Regions from separate parts of the Homo sapiens genome. Here region 1 is linked to region 2. Evidence: fine-mapped expression QTL. A gene starts in region 2. The other region holds a variant in brackets. All regions are shown on one strand. Distances are from middle to middle. Region 1 overlaps POPDC1 (popeye domain cAMP effector 1). Region 2 holds the start of POPDC1-AS1 (POPDC1 antisense RNA 1).

Region 1 (11,881 bases), 38 kb after region 2:
AAAAAGAGCAACAAGGCAATGTTGTTATAAGGACAGGGAGTTGGGGGGGGATTGCAGATTCTCAGCCACAAAGCTTGAAATGAAAGTGAATCAAGAACTTTTGCAGAAAAATTCCATCTTTCCAGGCCCTTAGGACTCCCTGGTTTATCCTCCTAGGATGTGTTCTAAGTGGTTCACACCCTGGTAAGAAATAAGCTCATTCATGGCAGCCACCCCTCTCTGTTTTCTTTCACGGATGTCTTTGTTTTAGCTTCTGAATATACAGTAGAAATAATAGTACAGATGTGGTGAGGGTGAATTGCTCTGAAAAGTGCTTTGAGTTTCTGAGAAATAAAATAAGACAGCATGAAAGACTGGGTGTGATTCCTTTTTATTTCCCCAACATTTAACCCATTGTCCTAGCACCTTGTGGTCACTCCCTGATTCCTTTTACTGATTGGATGAAAACATTGTAGCAGGTGATGGTGCTATTAAGCCTATTGATATTCCTTTGAGAGAACGGTGTTCTTGTCCATGCCCTAAGCAGTGTCGAATCAATTCTACAAAAGTGATTTCCTTCAGGGGACATGCTACAAAGTAGAGTGATGACAGTCCCTTTTCCTAATGAGGTTTACTGGACCCTGAGGCCTGCCTGCGCTTGAGGAATGCTGGTGGTGCCCCACTGGGAGACCCGCCAGAAATTAAAGGTGATGTCCATGTCTTTTTCCCTCATCCTCAGGATCCTTTCTGAGGTTCCCTATGTGGCCTTTCAGAGGAGGGATTTTTTCATCACTGTGTACTTAAGGACATTATCAAGGTCCTGACTATGTGTGGAGTAATTCTGTGAGGCTGCAGGAGGAAAGAGGCCTTGGTTACAGCACTCAAGATGCCTGTTTTCTAATAAGGAAGAGATGCAAATGCTATAACCACAATGTTACACAGAATGTGGAAGGGCTGAAGTTATTGAGATGAAGAGGGTAGAATCTTCCCACAGGAGTCATGGAGGGTTACACATGAAGGAGGTGGAGTTTGAATCCTGCTTGAGGAAACAATGGGAATTTGGTGGTTAGAGATGGGAGTGGAGGAACCATTCCAAGTAGAGGGAAAAAAGGCAAGAGGAAAAGAGGAGGATGGGCTGGATTTGAAGAGCAGTGAGTTTGCAAGAGCTTGGACTGGAAGAGGGAGGGAGACCCAACTTGGAGAACCCTGGATGTCACCCTAAGGATTGTGAATCACTCTCATTATCCTTTTAATGTTATATAGTAAGTTCCATAGCTCTTCTTCTGCCCCAGCAAATATGGTGGGAGCAGAATAAATTCTTTCACAGAAAAGCTGAAAGCTCTTGGGAAGTTCTCACTTAACCATTTCCATTTGTGTTGAGTCCTCCCTTCATTTTCTCTCAGTGAAAAAAAATGCAAAGTATAGGTGAGAGAGTTGGGAGGGTCAGATACCATTGTGGCTCCAGAGTATAGATACCTGCCTCAATATAACTGTAGGATGTCCTTCCTGGTATGATAGATGAGCTTAAAAACTAGAAACCAGTTAGTCCTACTTCCTCAGACAGAATAAACTGGGTATGTTTCTGTTAAGCGTGTTACACAATTATGTCTATATACTATATATTATTGACTTGATTTAATGCTCTTAGACATGCCATCTTATTGTTTGTTCTGAGAGTTTTGTCTCATTGTAGATACTCAGCCTAAGTTAATATTTATGAGACCCAATGATAACTTAAGGCTAAAAATATGATGGAAACCAGGGCTTTTTTTTTTTTTTTTAAAGACAATTTTGCCACACTCAAGAGAGCTAAGATTGAGAAACACAAACCCACATTTGAGCACAAGGCCCATTTCCTTTATTGGCCATTCTTATGAGCAATGATGAATTTTAACAAATTTTCTCATTATTAAGTCCATAGCCTTCCAAAGACCATAGTAATTGATTTTTATGTTCTTACAAATATTTACAAAGTGGTTATTACATCCCAGGCACTGATCTAATAACTTTACAAATATCAAGTTGTTTTATCCTTATAACAACCATATGAAATAGGTGCTGTTCTTATTATTCCTATTTTACAGGTAAGGAAATTAAGGCACAAAGAAGTAACTTGTCCAAGGTCGCACAGATAGAATTCATTGCCATTTGAATAGACATTGAAGTAGAGGTTGTGTTTCGTGTGTTTGATGTCACCTGCATGGGAAAGGGGAAGAACTCGCCTGAGAACTTCCCATGCTGTGCCCTGTGCAGAATTGGGTTCTTGGACCATTTTATTAGATGCTTCTTTTCTACAGTTTATGTCAATAGTTGTCATTCAAGAGACTCAGTATTTTTGCTGTAAATGTCTGTAAGTGAACAATTTCCGTATATATACAGCGAGTATACATTAGCTGTACCACAGTCTAGCCCTGCATATTTTTTTATGTTAGAGGATGTGACTGGTGGTAGCATTTCCCCAGATGTACGGCAGTGACTGTACAGTTAATAAGAAATGACATTTAGTCACATGTTCTATAGGCCCAACACCCTGCTAAGTACATCCTATGCATTATTCTGTTTAATCCTCCTAACAATCCCATGGAGCAGATCCTAAGAATATCCCCTTTTTATAGATATGGAAACAGAGGCCTAGAAAGGTATAGTAATTGAGTGCAGGTTGCAGAGTAGGGATTTGAACTCTGGAACTGTTTGCTGAGCCTCTGGTCTTGACCACTCTGCATGCTCCCTCCCCCTGTGCCATACCAGGGGCCAGGAATGACCACTCGTTCATGGCTGAGTGCCAGGGCAAAGCCTTTGCCGCTGTCTCAGCCTCCCTCCAGGAGCAGCCGTGTGACATGCTCATAGCCCTTGGCCCTCCTTGCTGGTTGTGGCATTCTCCCTGTGCTGGCCAACCCAGCTGTCTGCTCCTGACTCCTGCCAGTGAATGACAGCTGATCTTGACAAACTTCTGTGGTCATCTTGTAGCAGATCTGCTTCATGTCTTAATAGATCCTCCACTCGCTTTTGCTGTGAGCATGTATTTAAAGAGCCAGGTTTCACCCGGTATCCCTCCACCATCAACCTTCTCCCCAGCTGAGTTCAGCATTTGTGGGCTGCCGGAATGCCACTCCACCCTGTGATTGGGTAGCGAAGATATGGGTGTGGGCAGAGCAGGTGGAAACCCGGACAACATGGATCCTGACAGTGATGGTGGTGACTGTAAGGAGGGGAGTTTATGCAGTCACGTTAGCTGCTCATTAGGCACCTTGAGAGGCCTTTTGATAATGACTTCTACTCTTACTTTTAGATAGTATTTTCTTCTACATCAAGCATGGTATCCATTATATGGTAGATGCTTGATAACCATTTGGTGAATGCATGAACCAGTGAGTGACTGAATGAATGAATTGCTGCCTGGTTCCTTTGATTAAATGGCATCCTAAAAGGCCCTGGGGTTGCCTTTTCTCCTGCTGCTGCCTGGGATTGCGTTTCCTCTACTTGGCTTGTCCCTCCTGAATGCCTGGCCTTTCTTCCTCTTCCCCTGTCTCCTTTGCGTGTAAGCCCAGTGGGTGGCTGGACTCCATGGTGGAGGCAAGAAATGTTTTAGGTGATATTACAGATGGTGATTAGGTTCCATAATTTTGGAATAGAAGTATTCTTTGGGGAAATTAGGAGTTAAATCAACTTTCAAGGGCTAATATGAGACTCAAGCCCCCATGTATGATATTAATGTAGGAACATGCGTTCTGAGTCCTAAGCAGACTGTGGGGCAAACCCCTGGGAACTGAATATATTTGAGAAGCTCAGATCATCCAAGCACATGCGGTGGAATCTGTCCCTCATCTGTGCTCCTGACTGAGAGTCTCTTCTTGACTTGGTTATTTTATTGAGATGCTGGATTGAAATAGAATGGTTTATGGAAATTGTGTTCTTGGTGCTGCTAGTGATAGATTCCTACAGTTTTATTTTCCAGTTGGAATTTATAATTGATATATCACACCAGGGTCTGGGTAGATTGTGCATTCAGTGGTTTTCCCTCCTGTATCTTTCCACAGATGTGTCATCCCCACACCAGCGAGCCTCTGCCAAGATGAAACCGATAGAAGAAGGAGCAGAAGATGATGATGACGTTTTTGAACCGGCATCTCCAAATACATTGAAAGTCCATCAGCTGCCTTGATCAGAGAGAGAATTCAGGTTACCAAGACGGAAGGTGTCTTGAAGAGATCCTGAAAAATACCAGCACTTTTTCATGGCTTTTAGGTTATTCTGCTTTAGTGCATCCAGACTGGTGGAGTCGGAGGGAGGAAGTGAGGAAGGGTCAAGGATGGAAGAGTTCTTTCACTTACCCTTTTTATTAGTCAGCTTTTAAAGTAATTGTTTTACTGAGCCTTCTGACTATGCCTTGTTCTCTTTTGAGATATATATTTTCACAGTCTTTTCTAGATATATTATTGTTTTAACTTAACAAATCTTAGCAATCTCTCAATGCCTTTTCACTTATTTTTTTCCAAGTTATGATTCTTTTTCCTCACAGTCTTTTTTGTTCCATAGCAATGAGGTTGTCCATTTGATAATTTTAACAAACAATGTAAGTTTAAAATTGAGGCTAAGGTAACATGAAAAAGCAGGGAATCTCAAACTTTATTCCATATATACACACACACACACACACACACACACACACATACATACATACATATATATATATATATACATATATATACATACACACATACATATAATTTTTTTTTTTTTTGAGATGGAGTTTCACTCTGTCGCCCAGGCTGGAGTGTAGTGGCACATTCTCAGCTCACTGCAAACTCCACCTCCTGGATTCACGCCACTCTCCTGCCTCAGCCTCCCGAGTAGCTGGGACTACAGGCACCTGCCACC[G/A]CGCCCAGCTAATTTTTTTGTATTTTTAGTAGAGATGGGGTTTCACTGTGTTAGCCAGGATGGTCTCGATCTCCTGACCTCGTGATCCGCCCACCTTGGCCTCCCAGAGTGCTGGGATTACAGGCGTGAGCCACCGCGCCCGGCCTATTCCATATTTTTTTAATGGGACATTTTAGAGAAAGGTGTGATTTGACTGGTTTTATTTTTCTCCCAGGCCAGAAGTATTACTCCACTAGATCACCTTACTTAATTGGGCACTGTGTGGATAACTTGATAATGAACAAAACTCTCAGATTTTACTCACATTACCCTTGTATTATGCCATTTATAAACTGCTCTGAAACCTGAAGCTGGAAAGATAACAGATGGGTTTCTGAGCACGGGGTTAACCTCCAGCTAAACTCAACTTCCTTGGGATTTGGAGTCACCATGTTGTGCACACTCTGGTGTGGGAAACACTTTATGTAGGGTGGGAGGACAGGGGAGTTAAATGGCTGGGCAGGTGCCACAGGATGAGGCCACTGAAAGATCTGCTTCATTCTTTGATCTGTATTCTGAAGTTCCAGATTGTTCATCTAGAGGCAGAGACATCTCTTTTAAAAAAGTGCCAGATGCCCCAGTGCCAGAGCTGCGAACGTGAACACAGTGGAAGGCAGAGGGTTTACTACAGGCCAGGCCATGGACACCCCACCCAGGTACTGCAGTGAGGGCCTTGATTCCAGAGCTCTTTTTCCTACTGAAATCATGGTTTAGTAAACAGTGGCATTTGGCTGGTGGGAAATGCGTAACTGGTCAGTGTGTCTGGCCAGCGTGGCTGTGGCACTTGGCCAGGACGCTCCGTTGAATGAAGCTCATTGATTGGCCATGCTGGTCATGTCTATTTTGCTTCATCCACTAGAACCAACTTTGAGTCAGTCTCCTGTTACGTTAAATGGCTAAGAAAAGTTCCAAATGAAGTTGTTCTCAGGTGAACTGAGCCAAAAGAAGCAACTCTTACCATGAGGTGATTTCTGTTAGAGGAGACATATAAATAAGCTCATCTAGGGTCACCTCATTTTCCTAAATATGTTTTTAAAGCAATTATTGTAGTAATTTCATTTGAGTTAAATTTACATGCTCGGTCACTCATTGAGAAAATTTACACAGACTCTGAATCCAGTTCCTGTCATCTTCAGATGTTGGTTTATTGACATCACAGTAAAAAGGCTACTGTCGACTGGACACAGTGGCTCACACATGTAATCACAGCACTTTGGGGGGCCAAGGTGGGTGGATTGCTTAAGCCCAGGAGTTCAAGACCAGCCTGGGCAACATGGCTAAACCCCATCTCTACAAAAAAAATTAGCTGGGTGTGGTGGTACATACCTGTAGTCCCAGCTACTCAGAAGGCTGAGGTGGGAGGTTCACTTGAACCTGGGAGGTTGAGGTTGCAGTGAGCACAGATCACACCACTGCACTCCAGCCTGGGCAACAGAGTGAGACCCTATTTCAAAAAAAGGCTGCTTTCACTGTACTGCTGCAGCAGTCTCTTCAGGTAGCTAAATTAGGAGCTTGTTTTGGAGAAATGAAGCAAAGGTGAATGACAGCCTAGGCTTGAAATTATAAAGCTCTCTCAGGTTGAACTCTCTCGTGCGCTCTCGCTCTCACTTTCGCCCTGTACCTGAGAGCACAGGTGTAACTGTGATGTCATAGTGCCGAGACTACTTTCCTTTAACCATTGGGGTTAAGTTGGGCAGCCCATTTAGTTTACACGCGCATAAGACTAATTTACAAAATCACTCTATACAGTCATTAGATGTAACATCCTTCCCTGAGTAGAAAGTAATGCATGTGTTTGGAGATTATTTTCTGTAATGCTGGGAACAAACCTGTTTTAAAAGCACACTGCTAAAAGTAGGTGATATAAGACCATTTGCTGTTTTTATTAAAGTATGTGTGTGTATCAGTGTCTCAATGTGAAGATTGTAACCTCAAGATTAGGAATCTTAAAAGAGCCACTTAGCCTGAATGGGAAACGTGAGACTATTTTTAAACACACACCTCTAAGGAAGAAGCCTCCCATATAGACTTGATCTCAAAGAAGCAGATAAGAAGACAGAAAAGTGTTTTAAGTGTAAGATCTCCTATGGAGTACTTTAAATTCATTTATACAAATGAATAAGTGTATCTTTGTATAATGCATAAATACATAGATAAAAACATGTTTGCTGCCAAAGTTCCCAATAAGATGCTTCCTGTGTTTTTTGGCCTTTACTTAGCTGAATGATCAAAGTTCAGAAAATGGTCTGCAAAAGTTACTCCATATACAACCCCAAATCTACTACTTTAAATGTAACATCAACTCAGTTGTATGAATCTGGAGTGTAATATTTATATTAGAATGTATATGTCATTTAAAATATTTTGAAAGCCCTCATAAATATTTATATTTACTAAACTAATAGCATAGACACTATATAAATCCGCAGTGATGCTTATATATCTTAAATTAGTAATAATGGGTGCTATATAATTATTTTCAGTTACTATCCCTGACACTCTGGAATCTTCTCCATTTCTCCCTATCACTCAATTTCATTTTAATCATTGGACACCTTTGCGTTTTGCTGCTAACAGTGTGTGTATGTCACCCTCTTTATATCTGGTTTTCCCACTTGTCTGAAGCTCTCCTGATCTTAGAACCTGGAGCTGCAGATTCCTCCATGTCAGCTCCCATCACGGCCCCAAAGACAGAGTCACTTGGTTGCTGAGTCACTTGGTTGCTGGAAAAATCTTTGGGGAAAGCTGGTATAAGCTACACACTGACCTGTCCCCAGTGTTTCCAGGTAATGACTTGGCACTCCAGAGAAAGTTTCATGCTGTTGCGTGTGGTGGCTCCAAGCCAAGCACCTGGCATGCAGGTCAGCCCTTCCCAGCGGGCGTGGCGTCGTCCTCTTCACAGATGCCACGTTGCAGCCCCAAGGCCTCACCATTTTGCGTTTTTTAGAAACCCATTTTCTTGGTCATTTATAAAGCTGCTTTATAGATATCTTTGATCCTGGCATGCCTTGGTTTCCTCTCCCTTCCCTCTTTCCAATCCTGGTTTCCTAACCTCCTCTTGTAGTAATTCTCAACTCAACTCAAAGTCCCAAGAATTTGGAATGGTAGGATGCTGTGCGGGGAGCTCGAGGCTGAGGCATAATCACTGCTTCGGTTCTGCTCATCAGGGGACACGCTCCCTTACTCATGGCAGCCATGTTTGATTGTCACAGAGCCCCCCGAATACTCTGTCTATAGTGACACACTGTAGGTGTCATAAATTTTAAGAAACCTGCTTTTAAGTACTATTTATAGGTTTTTCTGTTATACTTGCAACCTAGTTTTAAAATACATGAGGATTTTATGAAAGCTTTATACAGACATTTATAGGAAACTCATTCTTTGATTTTAGGTGCCATTTAAATTGATAACACTTACTTTATAAAAAGATGCTTTTTGTCTGGATAGAGCCTTATAGTTTAAAATATCTTCATATATTGCCATTTGATCAAATAAATTTCTTACTTAGAAAATGTGTGTATTTTTTATTTCATTCCTCTTACATATATCTAGCTTGTTCGAATGTCATGCCCAAAGGCCAAGGTTGTGGGGATGGGCCTGGTGCAGGCCATTGTATTCTGAGCAGACCAGCAGGGGCGGTGCTTGTGGGTCGGTCATACCTGACTTCAAAGGTCCTGCCATCTTGGCTGCTTTGACTGTGAAAAAAAAAAATGGCCAGAAGGCAGTGTAGACAGTGTTGACTAGATGCAGCAATGGAGAAGCCTTCAGAGTTTTATTGATGGGACTTAGTGGGCTTCAGCTTTTTTTCTATTGCATCTGAACATTCACTCCCTTCTAGTTTCCTAAGATTCAACAATATGAGGAGTCACATGAAGGAGTCAGAAAACCTCCCTGGATCTGTTCTGTGGTGGATGAGGGGGACAGTCTTTCTATTCTTTGAGAAACCCACGTTTTCTCCCATCAGCTGTCCTAGATATTGGAATGGAAACTTGACAGCCCATCTTTTGGCCTTGAGTGGCAAGTCCTTGGCATCTAACACACCCACCCTAGTCAGCCTCAATGATAGGCCCAAATGGAAGGAGCATCTTATACCATGAGAGGAATTAATTCTGTCACTCAACAGGCCATGGCATCTAGGCCTGATGTCTGGGTTTCCAGCCCTGAACTTCGTGCTGAGCCAGCTTTTGGTCAGCTTCCCCTTACCTAAGGCTGTGCTGTAAGAGCTGGGAGTTTCCAGTGATGTCCACTTGGGGGTTTTCTGTAGACAGACATGGCTACAGCCCACCAGAAGATAAAGCTGACAGGACTTGGCTATTTGTGGGAGCAGAACTGGTGGTGAGTGAGAGGAGCATGTCGGAGATTTCTGGCTTATGTTACTGCTGGTGATTCTCTGGCCAGGAACATCGCAGAGCGCCAGGTTTGAATGCAAAGCCTGAGTATGTTTTCTTCATGCTAAGTTCTAGGGGCCTTGAGAATAATGAAAAGATGTCAAGCAAGCAATTGGATAAGTCAGCCTGGAACTCAGTGAAGGGATCTGGGCTGAAGATACAGATTTCCAAGTTGGAGACGTCACTGTGAGTTCACCAGCTTCCTAATACATAAAGATTTTTCTAGTTAAGGTTTTTTCTTTTCCTCATCCCTCGCCCCCCCATGAATGAATGAATAATAATAAATGAGTGAATTTTTGATCTTTTATTTCGAAATGTGTTAACATTTGAAAGATCCGCATAAGTGAGCCAGTATTTTTTAAATGGTCAACACATGATGTTGTAAAGTCACACACATGGATATAAGATCTATTCCAAGCACAAGCTAGACCAGTGCAGCAGCACAAAACTGCCATTAACAGGGTTTTGGACTCCACACTGCAAACAACCTTTAAGAAAGATTGTTCCTTTTCCACTCCCACTGCTTCACTTGACTAACCTTAAAAAAAAGAAAAACGAAACTATTATAGAGTTTTCTGTAGTATCAAGAATAGCCACAGTTGGCCCAGCATGGTGGCTCACACCTGTAATCCCAACACTTTGGGGAGCCTAAGGTGGGTGGATCACTTAAGGCCAGGAATTCAAGACCAGGCAGGGCAACATGACAAAACCCCACCTCTACTAAAAGTACAAAAATTAGCCAGGTGTGGTGGCATGCGCCTGTAATCCCAGCTACTCAAGAGAATCTGTGGAACTCAGGAGACGGAAGCTGCAGTGAGCAGAGATCATGCCACTGCACTCCAGCCTGGGTGACAGAGCAAGACTCTGTCTCAAAAAAAAAAAAAAAAAATCCACAATTATCTCAAGATTATTAAAGTACTTAACTCTGTACTCCTCCCTTTTCCAAAATTTGTGTGAGGCTAGATTTTCTTCATATACTTCAACCAAAACGATATATGTTACAATCTACTGAATGCAGAGCAGATGTGAAAATCCAGCTCTTGTATTTAGCCACACCTCTAGAATTGCAAAAGCATAAAACAATGCCACTCTACACTTTTTTGTTTTATAAAATAGTAATTTTATAAATTTTATAAATAGAAAAACGTTCTTCATGTTAACATGTAATAAGTTATTATTTTTAAGCAGAATGATGAATTTCATCATTCTCTAAGTGCCTCTGTTTCTAGCCCCTGTGGCTCTCCCCTGGTTCCTGCAATAGAACCCCACCTTGTTTCTCCACCTCTGGCCTCACTTTTTCCAGTCGACCTTTGTGCTGCTATCAGAATAATCTGAAAATTTGCCAACAGAATTGAAAACCTTCTGATGGAGCTTCCTTTCCTGCAGAGAAAAGGCCGCACTCTCTGCACGGCCACCAAGGCCCTTCCCATACCCAGTCACCCGCACCCAGCCAAGACAGTGACTTCTCCATCCCCTGAACTCATCACACGTGAGCCCACCTCTGCCCAAAATGCCCGCACTTCTCCATCCAGCGGTACCCCCAGGGTAAACTCCCACACCTCTGTGGATCTGCTCTTCCCTCCTTTGCTGCCCTCTGTGGCCAAGAATTTATGCACACAATATGGCTGGTTGTATGGCAGCCAAGGCAGGGACGTTTGCTTAGGTCTCAATGTCTCTTCAGATCATCGTTGAATCTAGCAATGCTCTTTCACTTATCTATTTGAACCGTCAACAGTACTGTCAATGTGGGAGGGCAGGCCCTGTGTCCCCTTTTTAGAAGGGAGAGAAGGTGGGTACAGAGACGGTAAGTGACTGACCCAAGGTCACATTGTCGGCAGGTCCCAAACACATGTGGTCTGTTCACTTTCCTAGTTCTGCCTTACAACCCTGGTTAATTTTTTTTTTTTTTTTAGAGACAGGTTCTTGCTCTGTTGCCCAGGCTGGAGTGCAGTGGCACGATCACAGCTCATTGCAGCTTTGAACTTCTGGATTCAAGTGATCCTCCCAGATCAGCTTCTCCAATAGCTGGGACCACAAGGGTGCACCACCATGCCTGGCTAATTTTTTTTTTTTTTTTGGTAGAGATGGGATCTCACTATGCTTCTCAGGCTGTGTCTTCAACTCTGAGAAACCGACTTATTTTCTACTTATTCTACTCCTACTCTATGCTTAGGCCTTGTTCTCATTCCAGTTTTGGGCCATGTTCACAGTTCCCATGTCATCTATAGCAGCGTCCTCTTGGTTGCTCTACCACTGGGTCTTGGATTTTGTTTTGTGTTTTTTGTATTTTGTTTGTTTGTTTTTGAGACAGGCTCTTGCTCTGTTTTCCAGGCTGGAGTGCAGTGGTGCGATCTCAGCTTACTGTAGCCTCGACCTGCCAGGGTCCAGTGATCCTCCCACCTCGGCCTCCCGAGAAGCTGGGACTACAGGCGTGTGCCACTATGCCCCGCTAATTTTTGTATTTTTTGTTGAGATGGAGGTCTCACCATGTTCCCAGGCTGGTCTTGAACTCCTGAACTCAAGCGATCTGCCTGCCTTGGCCTCCCAAAGTGCTAGGATTATAAGTGTGAGCCACTGTGCCCAGCTGGATCCTGGAT
Region 2 (11,881 bases):
AGAAAAAGGAAAAGCTGAAGTCAGGAACAAGACGAGAGTGTCTTGTCTTCTATTTAAGACAGTACTGAAAGTCTTCGCTGGGGCAGAAAAAGAAACAAAAGCCTTCCAAATCAGATAGGAAGAAGTAAAATTGTATATTTGCAGAAGACATGATCTTATATATAAAAACCCTGTATACTCCACCAAAAATTATTAGAACTAATAAGCACATTCAGTAAAATTAAAGGATATAATATCAACATGTGAAAACCAGTTGTATTTCTGTATATGAATAACAACCTACCTGAAATGAAGTAGCAATCTCATTGACAACAGCATCAAAACAATAAAATATTTAGCAATTCATTTAACCAAGAACATGAAAGACCTATACACTAAAAGTATAAAACATTGATGAAATAAATTGAGGAAGACACAAATAAATGAAAATATGTCCTACGTTCGTGGTTCGGAAGGATTAATATTGTTAAAATGTCTATACTACCAAGAGTAATCTATAAACTCAATGCATTTTCTATCAAAATTCCAATGGCATTTTTCACAAAAATAGAAAAAAAATCCTAAAATTCGCATGGAACTACAAAAGGCCCCAAATAGGCCAGGCGCTGTGGCTCACGCCTGTAATCCCTTCCAGCACTTTGGGAGGCCGAGGTGGGTGGATCACTTGCGGTCAGGAGTTCGAGACCAGCCTGGCCAACGTGGAGAAACCGCGTCTCTACTAAAAATACAAAACCTAGCCAGGCATGGTGGTGGGCACCTGTAATACCAGCTACTTGGGAGGCTAGGGCAGGAGAATCACTTCAACCCTGGAGGCAGAGTTTGCAGTGAGCGGAGACTGTGCCACTGCACTCCAGCCTAGCCAACACAGTGAGACTCCATCTCAAAAGAAACAAACAAACAAACAAACAAACAAAAACCCCAAATAGCCAAAGCAATCTTGAGAAAGAAGAACAAAGCTAGGGGCATCACATTTCCTGATTTCAAGCTGTATTACAAACCTGCAGTAATCAGAACAATGGTACCAGCATAAAATCACACGTCTAGACCAATGAAACAGAATAGCCCAGAAATGAGTCCATGTGTTTATGATCAAGTAATTTTTGATGACAGCACCAAAAATATACAATGGGGGAAAGATAGTATCTTTAATAAATTGTTTTGGGAAGACTGATTATTGGACCCTTATCTTATACCATTCACAAAAATTAACTCTGAATGGATTAAAGACTTAAATGAAACCATAAAACCACTAGAAGAAAATGTAAGAAAAAGTATTCTTGACATTGGTCTTGGCCATGACTTTTTGGATATGATACCAAAAGCAAAAACAAACAAGTGGGATTCCATCAAACTTAAAGGCTTCTGCACAGCAAAGGAAACAATCAACAAAATGAAAAGGCAACTTATGGAATGGGAGAAAATATTTGAAAACCATATCTCTGATAAGGGGTTAATATCCAAAATATGTAAGAAACTCATATAACTCAACAGCAATAAATAAATAAATAATAGGTAAAGGACCTCAATAGACATTTTTCCAAAGACATACAAATGGCTAACAGACACACGAAAAGGTGTTCACCATTACTATCATCAAGGAAATGCAAATCAAAACTACAATGAGATAATCACCTCACACCTGTTAGAATGGCTACTATCAAAAAGACAAGAGGTAACAAGTATTGGCCAGAATATGAAGAAAAAGGAGCCCCTGTGCATTGTTGGTGGGAGTGTACACTGGTATAGCCATTACGGAAAACAGTATGGAGGTTCCCTGAAAAATTAAAAATATAATTACCATATGATCCAGCAAGCCCAATTCTAGGTATATATTGAAGGAAATAAAATCAGTATCTCAAAGAGATGTCTGCACTCCCATGTTCATTGCAGCAATATTAACAACAGCTAAGACAGGGAAACAATGTAAGTGTCCACTGAGGAAGGAATGGATAAAGAAAATATGGCATATGTACACAGTGAAATATTATCCAGCCATAAAAGAAGGAAATTCTTTCATTTGTAACATGAATAAAAATGCAGGGCTTACACTAAGTGAAATAAGTCAGAAAGAGATAGACAAATGTTGTATGACCTCACTTATGCATGGAATCTAAAAAAGTTGAACTCACAGAAACAGAGAATACAGTTACCCGGGGCTGAAGGGTGGGAAAACCGGGGAGGTGGTCAAAGGGTACAAACTTCCAGTTATAAGATGAATAAGCTCTGGGGATCCAATGAATGGAGTAGTGACTCCAGTTAGCTATACTTTATTTTATAACTGAATTTGCTAAGAGAGTAGATCTTACATGTTCTCACTACACACATAAAAATGGTAACTATCTGAGGTGATGGATGTGTCAACTAATTTGATTGTGGTAATCATTTCACAATATATACATACATCACATTAAAAAAAGAAAAGGCATGGAAGAAACTTAATGCATACTGCTTAGTGAAAGAAGCCAATCTGAAAAGGCAATACATTATATAATGCCAACAATAGGATATTTTGGAAAAGGCAAAACTATGAAGACAGTAAAAAGATCAGTGGTTGCCAGGGGTGTGGGAGGAGGATAGACAGAGGGATGAAGAACTGCAGCACAGTATATTGAGATTGTTCTGTATGATACTGTAATGGTGGATACATGACATTATACATTTGGCAAAACCTGCAGAATCTACAACATGAAGAGTGAACTGTAAAGTAAACTACAGACCTTTGTTAATAATGATGGATCAGTTTGAGTTCTCCCTTTGTGACACACATACCACACTAATGCAAGGTGTTAATCATGAGGGAAACTATCTGCTCAGTCATCTGTAAACTTGAACTGCTCTTTAAAAAAGTCCATTAATTTTTTAAAAATCAAAAGAAATGTAAAAACAATCAGTGAGGATGGTTGTCAAACTGGTCAGTGAAAAAGTTAATGCAACAATTAGTGAGAGGAATGTGGGTTCAGAAACCAGTCGTGACCAGAACTGTCTGCTATGAGAATGTATCAGAAACTGCTATAGTCTCCATGCAATTAGTAATAACAGTTGAAATAAAGTCTACACTGATGTATACCATGGGCAGATTTGTAGATAAGGAATATAACGCTACTTACTGTTATGTGAGTACTTGTTTTTTTGTTTTTTGTTTAAGACAGAGTCTCACTCTATTGCCCAGGCTGGAGTGCAGTGGTGTGATCTCGGCTGATCGCAACCTCTGCCTCCCGGGTTCAAGCAATTCCTGTCCCTTAGCCTCCAGAGTAGCTGTATTACAGGCATGTACCACCACACCGGGCTAATTTTTGTATTTTTAGTAGAAATGGGGTTTCACCATGTTGGCTAGAACTCCTGACCTTAGGTGATCCGCCCACTTCAGCCTCCCAATATATGTGTACTTTTAAAACAAGTGACTCCCTCAGATCTTGTTTTATTTTCACAAAACTTATTCTATCTGAACTTTGAAGTCTCATTAAGGTTTTATCCAACTGGTAAAAGTAGACTAGGATGCCTATAGAGAAATAAAGGTAAAAATAATTATGTCAATCTAACACTAGCCAGAGTTTTTACAGAGGAGACAGACTGCCTTGTATTTTGTTATTCATGCTTCTTACCCTTTTCATTCTACACGTATGTGCAAATTAGCTCCTTGCTTCATATTAACTTTCAAAATAGCGCTCGGAAGCTTTCAATCTGACCTTTCTGTGGCCAGCAGGAGGAGACCAGGGAGCTTAAGGCATTCCCATATCCTGGGCTATGTGTTTAGAATTCTTGCTTTGAATTTTATAAAGCTACTATTCATACATCTGGGATAAGAAATTAAAATACAGTAAGATACTCATTATAAATAACGGTTTCAATCCTAGATGGGTTATAGTGAGGGGATTAGGTTTTTTCCAGTCTTCACTTCCTATAGAACACAGACTCAAAGAAAACACAGACTCTGTGAAAGGCTAGAACTCAAATCTTATGATAACTAATTCAGTGCTCTTTTCATAAAAATGTGCAATCTTTATAAGATCTACATGCCTTACAGGTATCCTATCCTGAAGGTAAGGAGTGGGTGTGTAATAGGTGACAATATATCTAAGTTACTTATAACACTGCCTGACACAAAGTATACTCTATGTGAGGCATCAGTAAGCTTCTTCTGTAGAGCCAGAGAGTAAACATTTTAGGCTTTGTGGGCCATAAGGTTTCTCTTGTAACTAATCAAAGCCGCACTGGCAGCATGAAAGCAGCCATAAAAATGAACGTGACTGGGTTCCAATAAAACTTTATGGACACTGAATTTGAATTTTATATAATGTTCACATATCATGAAATATTCTTCTTCTGATTTTTTCCAACCATAAAAAATGTAAAAATGGGTATACAAAAACAGGCAGTGGGCTGGGGTTTTGGGGGCATAGCTTGCTTTATATAATTAGTAGACATTATTATGATGTCTATAATATCTTTCTAGAAATTATTTTTAATGGTTGTTTAAACATAGAGTCTGTTTCTATGTTTTTTATTTTTAATGGCTGTTTAAACTGGTAGGAGAGGGGGGATTCAAACCCAGCTTGTGTGACATCAAGGCCCATGCTCTTTCATAAACAAGACTGTCTGGATGTTCTATAATTTACTTAGTCCCCTGTGGTTAGAATTTAGGCTATTTCCAATATTCATTATTATAACTCACCCTCCAGTGAACATCTGTGTAGTTAAGTCTTTACGCACACATGTATACCCACACCTTAAAATGTATTTAGTGGTAGCTATCAAAACAGCTGGTAGGGACGTGGGCACACCTGTAATCCCAGCTACTGGGGAGGCTGAGGCAGAAGAATCGCTTGAACCCGGGGGGCGGAGGTTGCAGTGCGCCCAGATCGCGCCATTGCACTCCAGCTTGGGCAACAAGAGTGAAACTCTGCCTCAAAAAAAAAAGGCTGGCAGAGCATCTAGAAAGAAACAGACTCTAAAGAAGTAATCTCAAAAAGTAATCTTTTATGGTTATAGGAAAGTTCAGACGTATTAGAAAAGGAGTTTTATAAATACAATATATATACATAGAACTTATGTCCCAAACACCATTTTAAGACCCTTATATATAATTACACCATTTAGTCCTCAAAACTATACTATGAAGTGCAGGTACAATTATCATAATTATCATCATCATCATCATCATCATCATCATTATCCCCATGTTCCAAAAAGGAAACTGAGGCACAGAAGGGCTAGGTAACTTCTCCAAGGTCACACAGTAAACTGGTAGGAGAGGGAGTATTCAAACCCGGCTTGTGTGACATCAAGGCCCATGCTCTTTCTTACTAGGCTGCACCATCTCTTCAACCAGAGACTTGTCCAGTGTGCACCTCCAGGTACTCTTTATAATGTACCTTCACACAATCGGTGGTGGTATTTTTTATATTGAGATCACATTTCACATGCATGAACGATCTCATAATCTAATAACTGATGCCAATTTTAACCAATAATGGGACACTTTTGGTGGAAACTGGGTACCCATCTAACCTTCCTCTATTGTCCTACAAGACAACTCCCAACAACGCCAATTCTTTATTAAGTTTCCTTGCTTTTCTTACCCAAAATAGTTGTCCAGTGAACAGTAAAAGTTGATCGGAGCATACTCTCATGTCTTATTTTCCAACGTATGGCCCAAATCTACATTCAGGTAGTGCTTTGCCTACGATGGAGGGCCTTGTACCGCCTGGGATTGCTAGTTTCGGTTAAGTACCCCTGTTTGAAAACAAAAACAGTGGCGCGTGTCAGAAGTCCCTCCCGCGCGGCCTCTTCCCCCTCTTCCTCCGCAGCAGGAGGCCTGACCCCCGCGTCCTGCACCCGTGTGGACCAAACGTTCAGCCTCCCCCGCCACAATCGGACGGGAACTCGCGCGCTTTCCGGGCTATTCCCTGTTTGTGCTGAGTTATGGGCGAATCTCCCAAAAAGGAGATATACGAGTGGGTCGTCCAACTTTGAGGGGAAACGAGGATTCTCTTTCTCATTTTCTCTCCTGATTTCTCTCCCTACCCGGACCGCACTTCTCGAATTATCCCCGTAAGGAGGAACGACGAATGCCGCCGGTCCCACGAGACTGCCGCCCCCCACTCATGCCCAAACAAGGATAGAATCTTGTAGCGAGGCGACAAGAAAATAAATAAGCGGGCGTTTCAAACCGAGTCCTCGGGTGTGCAGACCCGCAGCGGAGTCGCGGGAGCGAGGTGGGAAATCCTGGCCGCGGCGCCGGGCTCCGCCCGCCGGGGGGCGCGGGGCGGCGGGCGCATGCGCGTGCGCGGTGCGGCCCCAGCCCTGGCTGCCGCCGCCTGCCGCCGCCGTCGCGATGCCTATTTTAGTCAAAGCGGCTGCGGGCTTGGGGACCCGGCCCGGGCAGCGGAGCTTCCGGACCCGCCGACCCGCCGAGGAGCGCGCGTCGGGCTCCCGTCGAGCAGCTGAGCCCGTGTGCCCCGCGTCCCGCGCCCCGAAGCTGCCGCTCCGAACTTTGGTCGGCGCTGCCCAGGCTCCCCGCCAGGGACCAGCCGGGTAAGGATGGGAGGCGCAGCTGCAGCCGGCTTTCCCCCCGCGCCGGGTTGTGTGCGGCCTCGCGCTCCCCTGGCTAAATCGGGAAGCGAAAGTTGGATCTCAGCCCCTCGGGGAGCAACTTTGTCGGCCCTGGCGGCAGCTGCTTGTTCTACGCGCCCGGGCAGCCGGGGGCGCCGCCCTCTGTCCCTCCTCGCTGGCCGCGCCCTCGAGGGGCTCCCGGCCCTTGGAGGCCGCCCTTCTCCCCGGGTCTGGGCGCTGCGGCCACAGAGACCCTCAACGGTCAGCGGCCGCCGCTCAGGTCAGGCAGCCCCAGCGTCCCCGGGCCCTCGGCCCCACCGAGTGCCGGCTCCCGCGCTCTGCGGCGGCAAGCCCCTTGGTGAGCTCCGTCTCTGCTCTCTCCGCCGAGTCTCCGGGGTTCCTCCTCGCCCCCTGTAGGGCCGCCTCGAGCCGCGCAGAGCCTGCGTGCAGCCGGGCGCGCGGTGTCGCCCACTCCGTCCCCGCTCGGAGAGTAGGGTGGGCCACGGCGCTCACTCCTCACCCCCGCGTCCCGAGAGCGCCTGGCCGAGGAGGACCGTTGCCACGGACCCTCCTCCTTTAAGGAGCGAGGTCAGAGGGCCCCGGGAGAGCGCCGATGGCTGGGGACCCGAGGTCCGCGCCACCCACCCGCAACCTCCTTCCCCGAGCCTTTGGGAACGGGTTGTTGGCCAGACAAGTCCCAGAAACTGCCTGCTTTGAAGCATGAATAAGTGCGAAAAGACTCTTAGCAATGTAATGCCATTTGCCATTCGGGAGATGTGCGAAGATTCAGTTAGAATTACAGAATGAATTAACTCGACTAGCAAGACGCTCGTTTGCAGTTATCTTTTTCATTTTTTTAGTTTGGTAGAGGTTTAATGTTAGTTTCAGCATTTAGCTATTTAGCCCTACAATCACCTATTTGAAAAACGATAAACAAAACTTTACTAGTATAGGTAATTTAAGGACTTCAACTTTGATGATCTGATGAGGGAAAAATAATTTCTCTTGATTTAGTCAAAATTAATCTGAAAAGTTTACCAATTTAGCAGTCTAACCTTTCTCTTTCCACCTATTCTCTGTATAAGAATTGTTAAGTGTAAGCCACTTAACGATTAAGTGGTAATCAAAGTAAACTGATCTGATCAATATTTTCGACAATAGGTAACTGGCATTTCACAATAGACAATTATATAGATATATAGATACATATATCTATATATATCTCTCTCTCTCTTTAATAAGGTGTCGTGCGTCAAAACATGTTTAGGATGACCGTACCTTCTAAAAACTGCTAATAATATTTTCTGGTTCTTGGGTCATAATAGTAGTTTTCCTGTCATTTTTCTTGGACCAGAAATTGGTACTTTTAGTGTCACTTTAAGAACTTGTAAAAGCCTGATATTGAATTATAGTGGATTAATAGGCAATACAGGTGAAATTGGGTGAACTCGAGGGGCAACATGTATTGATTGATTGATTATGTAAATGTGTATTATAGAACCATAGGCTATTAAAGTTTTCCCTATTCCAAGGAAGAAACAGACCCGAGGAGCAGAAGTGGCTTTCCCTGGCTTATGTAGCACCCTGGTGGCTTGTGGTGTAGAACCTCACTCAACCTCAGGAAGGCTAGGCACTCCTCTGGCTTTATTACTGAGATCTGGGGAGACGGAACAGTGATTTCTGAAAGTGTTTATCAGGTTGACGTTCCTTCAGAGTGGCTTTCATCCCTGTCTCAGTGGCCTTCTCTACAGAGGCTAGGCCTTGGAAGTACATAGATGAATAAACATTGTCCCTGCCTCCTAGAGGACAAACAGGACAATGGGAGTGTAGGTACATTCTACAGTGCTGTCGAAATGATAGTTATTATTAACCTATGTAATGCTAGGGTAGGTGATGTTGGGTTATGAGTGATAGAGGATACCTCATATCATTCTCTGTCCTGCAGAAGTTACGAGATTCATTCTCGTTTGGCCTTGAAAAGCAAATTTTGTATAAATGGAGTTATTAAAATAATGATCTTCCCCCCCGCCATCCTGATAGGCTTATATATTTGCTGATTTCAGACATTTGGAAAATAGGTGAATTTTTGTTTCTTTCCTTTTTGTAGCAAATCAATATCTAAGTCAACTATTACTATTAATATTTATGAGCTATTTCAGAATTATGTAAAAAGATCTTCAGTTGACTTGATCATTTCATTCACAATTTGTAAATTGGTGTGCTTGTTTTTTATCATCTTTAAGCTGTGGAATTCTTTCACATTTGTCTGTTAACATCCTTTCAAAATACCCATTTTGTACCAATTAATTATTCTACTACCTAAAACCTTTAGTATGTTAAGAACAAGCAGTAGAAGAGTAAGATTAATTGCATGACCTTATTTTGAAAGAAATACATATTTCTAAATTTAAATGTATTTAGGGTCCCCATTTGGAATTTTGCTGAAACAGAATAATTCATATAATCTGTAAACCTACATAGTGTTTGGCAAGGACCAAATTTGTGCAATTAATAATAGAGTGTTTTTTAAGGACCGGAGACCGAAGACAGGTAACATAGGAAATGGTTTTATATAAGCATGTGTAAAATGTATATTCTTTAAATGTACTTGCTATGGATTTTCATATGTATAAGTAAACTGGAAGTTTACTACTTTTAAATTTGTGATATGCTACCAGGTAGAATTATTATGGGAAATAAAGTAGAGATTTAAATAAGACAATAAAAGTTTCATGTTGTATCTCTCTGTGTATATATAAATGTTTATATGGCTATATATTATTTGCATATATGATAATGTATTATGTATGTATGATACAGTGATTTAATGGTGGTATAAAAATAGAGCCTTCTAAATATCCTAAGCCTTCAAATAGATGTGAGGGTATTCATATTTTTTAAGTATTCAAATAATTAGTTTTCTAGTTATTTTTCCTGTGTTTGGATTCAGTCACCAGTGGGAATTTGATGGAAGACTAGACTAAATAACTTTGTAATTACCATGGTTTATGAACATTGGTGATTATCTTAAAGACTAATTCCCTCACTCCTCCCTTCCCTACAAGTGTTTATACGTATATATGTGCCTATGAGGGAATAGTTTTGCACTATGCTAAGTATTTTATGTATTTCATTTCATTTGATCATAAGGCAAATGAGGTATTATTACCATCTTTTAACAGGTAAGGAACTGAATACATTTAATATGTGACAGAGTTGGATTTGAATCTGGGTCTGTCTAATTCATAAGCACTAGAGAAGTCTATTTAATTCACAGAAATAATTTTGGTATAATACCTATGAAGGTAAAAAGATACAATTGCCATTTTTACGATTTTACTTTTGTTTACTTGTTTTTACAGGAATTTTCAAAATGAATTATACAGAGTCCAGCCCATTGAGAGAATCAACTGCCATAGGTTTTACACCTGAGTTAGAAAGTATCATACCTGTGCCTTCCAATAAGACCACTTGTGAAAACTGGAGAGAGATACATCATCTGGTTTTTCATGTAGCAAATATTTGTTTTGCAGTTGGGTTGGTTATTCCAACTACTCTTCACCTTCATATGATATTTCTTAGGGGAATGTTAACTCTAGGTAAGATACCTAACTGATACTTTATGTAACTTTTCTGTAACTGACATAAGATGGGCTTTACATTGAGAGCTTCAGAGTATTCTTTGTCAGGCCCATAGCAAGCCAAAAAATGTAAGTCTTTGTTAATGAATTAGCAGTATATCAATTAGCTTAGAGCATAGGCCTTCACATGCCATATCTCTCCCTTACTTACTTTGTTTATATGTGCTTTCATATGTTGTTTAGGTTTTCCAGATACCAGAACATTCATTCATGTGTAAGAGTATGAACTTTAAAGCCAAATTGTGTGATTCAAATCCTGGTTCTATTTCTTGTCAACTGTAACTTGGGCAAGTGATTTAATCTTTCTACTGCCTCAGTTTCCTCATGTATCAGATAAGGGTAAAAATAATACCACCTCCCAAAGTTGTTGTGAATTAAATGTGTGTCATATATATATTTAACTTGGAATATTGCCTGCCCATAGTAAGTACTGTATAGTTTTAACTATTATTACTTGAAAAGATATTTGCTGTGGGCAGTAAAGAAACATTGGGAACAAAAACAATTACCAGATACAGTAGTTCAAATAAAACAAATTTTTTTTGGTCCCAGTAACCCTGATGAAGCAAGTTAAATTGATTCACATCAGAACATTAAAACAATTGAATCTGTTATATTAGCCAGTGATTCTTGACAAATTATTCTCTATGTGATTATTTCCCTGATGGCCCATTTATTCAGGTGCATTTTTTAGCACCTGTGATGTGTCCAGACAAAGACTGAGGAAGGCCGTCTTCATCCTTGAGAAAGACACTCTTGTGGGGGCTGGTGGAGAAACAGATGGGCAATCCCAGTATGGCGTATCAGATGCTGGGATGCAGGTGTGCACCCATTATCCAGGGGGACACGGAGAAGGTGATAGGCTTAGTAGGAAGGCAGAGCAGGGTCCCGCTGAGGAGGTGACATGGGACCTGGATTTTGGAAGATGAGCAGGATTTATCTGAGTAAATGGGTATAGTATCCAAACAAAGAGCACAGAAGAGAAGGAAATTGAGCATATTGGGGTGAACGTAGAGTAGTGCATTGTGCTTAAAAATATAAATGGGCTGGACACAGTGGCTTACGCCTGTAATCCCAGCACTGTGGTAGGCCGAGGTGGGTGGATTACCTGAGGTCAGGAGTTCGAGACCAGCTTGGCCAACATGGTGAAACCTTGTGTCTACTAAAAGTACAAAAATTAGCCAGGCATGGTGGCAGGCACTTGTAATCCCAACTACTCGGGAGGCTGAGGCAGGAGAATTGCTTGAACCCCGGAGACAGAGGTTGCAGTGAGCCAAGATTGTGCCACTGCACTCCAACCTGGCGACAGAGCTAGACTCTGCCTCAAAAAAAAAAAAAAAAAAGTGATAAATGACAAGGAAAAAGAGGCTGGAAGGTTAGTAGAAGCTTGTGGGACCTCTGTGGCTGTGTGACCTGTGAGTAAGGTGAGGATTACAGCAGTAGGAACAGGGAGTTGAATGGAAAAAAAAATACCGTACCCTATAAAAAAGCAAACATCAATTATGAATTTTAAGACAGAGTTTTGGAGGTGGAATGAACCAAAGATATTATCAAATCTAACACTTTATTCTGTAAATGCAGAAAGAGAAATCTAGGCCAGGCATAGTGGCTAACGCCTGTAGTCCTAGCACTTTGAGAGGCTGAAGTGAGAGTATCTCTTGAAGCCAGGAGTTCAAAACCAGCCTGGG

What was found. PIP is the estimated chance that this variant, and not a neighbour inherited with it, causes the effect.
Region 1: its variant is fine-mapped to the expression of POPDC1-AS1 in testis (GTEx, PIP above 0.99).

The regions. Positions count from the first base shown.
Region 1 is chr6:105,093,349-105,105,229 of GRCh38, reverse strand. POPDC1 (popeye domain cAMP effector 1) reads left to right here. Exons shown (of 8, transcript NM_001199563.2): 8 at 4,017-8,408. The coding sequence ends at 4,141. Among named protein-coding and RNA genes, the nearest start is that of POPDC1, 38 kb to the left of the region's middle. The variant G/A (reference allele first, on the strand shown) is at 4,858.
Region 2 is chr6:105,131,622-105,143,502 of GRCh38, reverse strand. It overlaps POPDC1-AS1 (POPDC1 antisense RNA 1), which reads right to left and starts at 5,816. Exons shown (of 4, transcript NR_037157.1): 1 at 5,580-5,816. It overlaps POPDC1 (popeye domain cAMP effector 1), which reads left to right and starts at 6,346. Exons shown (of 8, transcript NM_001199563.2): 1 at 6,346-6,534; 2 at 9,915-10,151. The coding sequence starts at 9,926. RefSeq lists silencers at 6,308-6,417, 6,428-6,547.